Regions from separate parts of the Homo sapiens genome. Here region 2 is linked to region 1. A link means that fine-mapping ties the variant in region 1 to the expression of a gene that starts in the linked region. Tissue or cell type: thyroid. Region 1 holds a variant in brackets; the other region holds the start of a gene. All regions are shown on one strand. Distances are from middle to middle.

Region 1 (2,500 bases):
AAGATTAATGACTGGGGAAGTAAGTTCTTATTATATTTTTAAATGGAAAATTCGGGTTGCAAAACCACAAATTCTGATCTCAACCGTGAAAATAAATATATCAAGGCACTTAAATATTGAAAGAGATGTACCACAACGTTTACAGTAGCTATAGATAGAATTGATAGCTATTGATAGACTTATGGATTTTTGAGGGTTTAAAAAAATTTTTTTTACAGTTTTCTGATTTCCCAGATGTTCTACAATGAGCATATAAGTATTTTATAACATGGAAAGGGTTATTTTAAAACTCATTGCTTTTTGAATTAGAATTTCAAAAGAACTTTTTTGTTTTAGAGTAACAGCCCTAAAATTAACTAAAAATTAGTGGTATTCGCACATAGGTGCCATTTTAAGGGGCTGGTGCCATTACTTTCAAGCCAAGATTTTCCTCGGATTAAGAGATGGAATTTCTAAATGTCAGATGGGATTCCTAGGTGTACCTAAGTGTAGATCTAAAATGACATTGGAACCATTAGAGATAAAAGGAGTAACCACTACTTCTTTGGGGTGAGAAAAAGGAGAAATGCAATTCTGAGCTATTTTTATGATTCAGTCCAGTGAAAGACCTAATGGCTTTCCTCTTCATCCCCACCCCCAATAAGGAAAGAGTCCCCCTTGTGTAGCAAGACAAGGGTATCTCTCAGAGCACTTACCCTACGAGGTGACTGTGAGGTGATTGTATATATTTATCTGTGTTCATTAATTGTTTTTGTCTGTCTGCTATCAGAAGTAAGCAGGGCCAGGGCAGGGATCAGGCCTATATTTATTCCCCTTTGATGACCCAGATCTAGTGCAATGCCTGATATATAGTGATTTCTCAATAACTATTTGTTGAATGAATGAATGTGTCCAACTACTTTTTATGCTACCACCATCTCACCCTCTAGGCAAAGAAATGAAATCTTTCCCAGCTCCCTAGAAACTCCTCTTATACCCTCTGCCAGTTACAAACACTTTTTTCTGCCCAAATTAACTGCAATCCTGACTTTTCTTGTACTATAGTTTAATTTTGTTTTAATTTTATTTGAATAGGGTATTACCGTATGTATTTCTTTTTGCTTAAATTTTTGTGAAATTCATCTATATTTTTGCATATAACTATTTTGGTGGCTAATACAAAGTAGGAAGCAAATTCATTTTTTTCATAAGAATATTCATTTATTTCAGTACAGTTTATTGAAAATTCTCCCCTTTAACTCACCGCTCCATACTGTTCTTCTGTCA[C/T]AGAGCAAGTGCCCATGTATGCATAGGTGTGTTTGTGGGCACCCTATCTGTCCCATTGGCCTATTTGTCTGTCTTTGTGCCAATACTACATTGTCTTCATTAAAATAGCTTTATAATAACTCTTCATATTCAGTAATACATACCCTCTTAGCTTTGTTCAACAAATTCTTGGCTGTTCTTGAGCTTTTCCATGTCCATATAACTTGAGAATCAGCCTGTCAGTTTCCACACACTGAGATTTTGATGGGGATTGCACTGCATCTGTAGACCATTTAAGACTTGGCAAATTTACAATATTGAGTCTTCTAATTCATGAACATAGCATATTTAAGTCTTCTTTGGTTTCTCTCAATAAGATTTTATAGCTTTCTGCCCAGAGGTCTTACACGTATTTTATTAGTTTGATTTCTAAGTGTTTTTTTATGCTATTGTCATGTATTGTAGTAAAATTAATTTATATATTAACTTTGTATATACCAACCTTGTTAAACATATTCTAATAATTTATCTGTGAATTGTTTAGGATTTTCTCCATAGACAATTATGTCATCCATGAATAATGACAGTTTTATTTCTTCTTTTCTAATCTTTACATTTTGTATTTCTTTTTTGGCCTTTTTACACTGGCTGGGATCTGCAGTACAAAAGGAAGTGGCAACAGTGGGAGTCCTTGTATTGTAGACTGAATTATCCTCCAAAAAGATATATTGAAGTCCTAAACCTTGGTATCTGTGAATGTGACCTTATTTGGACTGCCTTTGCAGACGTAATCAAGTTAAGATGAAATCATACTGGAGTAGGGTTTGCCCTACTCTAATATGACTTGTGTCCTCATAAAAAGGGAACAGACACAGACACACGCACAGAGAACACCATATGAGGATGGAGGCAGAGATTGGAGTGCTGTATCTACAAGACAAGGGATGCCAAAGATTGCTGGCAACCCCCAGAAGCTAGGAAGAGGCAAGGAAGGATTTGCCCCTAGAGCCTTCAAAGACAGCATGGCCTTGCCAACACCTTGATCTCAGCTGCTAGTTTCCAGAACTGTGAGACAATGCATTTCTCTTGTTTGAAGTCACCCAGTTTGTGGCACTTTGTTACAGCAGCCCTAGGGGGCTCATACACCTTGTCTTGGTCCCAGTGTCAGAGGGAAAGCTTCAGTGTTTCACCATTAGGCATGATATTTGCTGAAGGTCCTTTTGGGGGATATCTTTTTTCAGATTCAGAAAATTCC
Region 2 (2,500 bases), 52 kb after region 1:
ACACACACACACACACACACACACACACACACACACACACACACACACACACTCACTCTATTTTGTGCTGTCGTAAAACCCACGTGTCCAGCCGGGAAGCTGCCAGAGCGTGGAACCAAGGAGCCAGGACGCGGCAGCGGCCAAGCGCAGCAGCCCACGGCGGTTGAGTCGGGCGCCCAGGTCCGTCCGCACTCTCGCGCCCTCCGCGGGCCTCCCAATTTTCTCGCTTGCAGGTCGGGAGGTTTCCGGGCGGCACAATCTCTAGGACTCTCCTCCCGCGCTGCTCAGGGGCATGTAGCGCACGCAGGGCGCACACTCTCGCGCACCCGCACGCTCACCGAGACACCCGCACGCACCCACCGGCAGCACCGAGTTTTCAGGTAAGGTGAGGCTGGTCTGGGACTTAAGAGTCTAGGGCTTGGTAGATAGGAAGGTTGGTGGTCCTAGGTTGGGGGCGGGCGGCGAGACTGTTCTGCCTCCTGGCGCCTGAGGCCAACGCGGCTCGGGCGCTGCGCCACGCCGGCTCGGGTCGGCTCCGGGCGCTGGCTGAGGGCGGGGGCTGCGTCCTGCAGCCGAGTTCTACGGGGCAGCGCCCTCCTGTCGGGCCCCAGCATTGCTGGATGGGAGCTGGACGCTGCGATCGGGGAGGCAGAGCAGGGTGCACACAGCTCCCTCTGTGCGGCGCCGCAGCTTCGGAGTAAACTTTGCGCCCAAGCGGAGTTGGGAAGAGGGAGCCGCGGAACCGGGCGGCCGCCGGCTGAACCACCGGCTCGGGCACTTTCTCCAGGGTCCCAGTGGCCCTCTTCCCGGCCCCTTTCGCCCAGCTCACGCGCCCCCTCTTCCCTGCCCTCTGCCCCCAGTTCGAGGCGCCGGACATGCTGAAGCCCGGAGACCCCGGCGGTTCGGCCTTCCTCAAAGTGGACCCAGCCTACCTGCAGCACTGGCAGCAACTCTTCCCTCACGGAGGCGCAGGCCCGCTCAAGGGCAGCGGCGCCGCGGGTCTCCTGAGCGCGCCGCAGCCTCTTCAGCCGCCGCCGCCGCCCCCGCCCCCGGAGCGCGCTGAGCCTCCGCCGGACAGCCTGCGCCCGCGGCCCGCCTCTCTCTCCTCCGCCTCGTCCACGCCGGCTTCCTCTTCCACCTCCGCCTCCTCCGCCTCCTCCTGCGCTGCTGCGGCCGCTGCCGCCGCGCTGGCTGGTCTCTCGGCCCTGCCGGTGTCGCAGCTGCCGGTGTTCGCGCCTCTAGCCGCCGCTGCCGTCGCCGCCGAGCCGCTGCCCCCCAAGGAACTGTGCCTCGGCGCCACCTCCGGCCCCGGGCCCGTCAAGTGCGGTGGTGGTGGCGGCGGCGGCGGGGAGGGTCGCGGCGCCCCGCGCTTCCGCTGCAGCGCAGAGGAGCTGGACTATTACCTGTATGGCCAGCAGCGCATGGAGATCATCCCGCTCAACCAGCACACCAGCGACCCCAACAACCGTACGTAGCCGCAGCCCGCGCGCTCTCTCCCGGGGCGCCGGCGCCGGCGCCGGCGGGCGCGGGTGCCTGTCAGGGAGGCGGGTCGGATAGGAGTGACACGGGGCCGGGTGGGTGGGGAGCACCTGGTCCTGGCCGCTGGCCCGCGCCTCCCCGATCTCTGTGACAAAAGTTTTCTGGCGTTGGAGAAGGAAAGAGAACGGATGGGACGGCCGGTGGCACTTTGGGGTTCCCTCTCCCTCCCTCTCCTCACCTGCTTCACAGTCCCAAGTGTTTGGGGCCGGAGTCTACCGTGGACCCGGCCTAACAGACCTCTGCCCTCCCGCCGGACAGTGCCCGGGGCCAGGCGGGTACTGGCAGCGTGTGACAGGGGGTGTCTGGGTCAGGCCCTGCCTGGCCTTAGCCGGGACGAGGGAGGGACCCTCAGCGTCTCTGGGGAGCACGCAGACCAGGGCTTGTTTTTGCTACTCTCCACCCCACCTCTGGAGGGGTCATTTTCGGGCCGCGGGGTTGTGGGGGAACCGGCGGGAGCTGTTCGCTGGCCAGGCCTCACTGGAGTAGGAATTTTAGATGAAACTGAGTCCGTTTCTCCTTGAAGGCAGGCAGTATTCTTAGATCTACTATTCATTTAAAAAGAAGGAAAAGAAAAAAAAATGACTGCTACTTACTGAGAAGAAAATTTCTGTTCTCCTCCGATTCCGCTGATCCCGCTTTATCCGCGCACCTTTGACCCCGCAAACATTCATAACCCATGTTGGTTTATGTATTTATTTTTAGAAATTAGGGTGACTGTAATTTAGTAAAAGACGCTTACTCCCCTCTTCCTCCAAGTTAATAGCAAATGCCTAACTAAACATCAGAATTCCTGTAGCTTCGGTTTCTATATTCACAATTTGAAACGCTTATCACAAGTACAGTTCCATTTGGCGGTTTTGAAGCAAAACTCTAAATGAAGATCAAGCAATATGTACTGCTTTATACCTGCTTCTTTTTGATAATTTCAGAAGTTATACTGTGTTTACACCTATACTGTGTT

Direction of the effects. Positions count from the first base shown, and alleles are read on the strand shown. Sizes are in standard deviations (SD) of each study's normalised expression.
For the expression in thyroid of the gene that starts at base 1,177 in region 2, C is the low allele of the variant in region 1 and T is the other (small effect, 0.23 SD a copy in GTEx).

Evidence for each region.
Region 2: PRDM6-AS1 starts here. The variant in region 1 is fine-mapped to the expression of PRDM6-AS1 in thyroid (GTEx, PIP 0.99).

What each region holds. Positions count from the first base shown.
Region 1 is chr5:123,037,498-123,039,997 of GRCh38, forward strand. The region is part of intron 1 of PPIC-AS1 (PPIC antisense RNA 1); the gene reads left to right. Among named protein-coding and RNA genes, the nearest start is that of PPIC, 2.0 kb to the left of the region's middle. The variant C/T (reference allele first, on the strand shown) is at 1,267.
Region 2 is chr5:123,089,140-123,091,639 of GRCh38, forward strand. It overlaps PRDM6-AS1 (PRDM6 antisense RNA 1), which reads right to left and starts at 1,177. Exons shown (of 2, transcript NR_146771.1): 1 at 933-1,177. It overlaps PRDM6 (PR/SET domain 6), which reads left to right and starts at 102. Exons shown (of 8, transcript NM_001136239.4): 1 at 102-380; 2 at 861-1,467. The coding sequence starts at 876.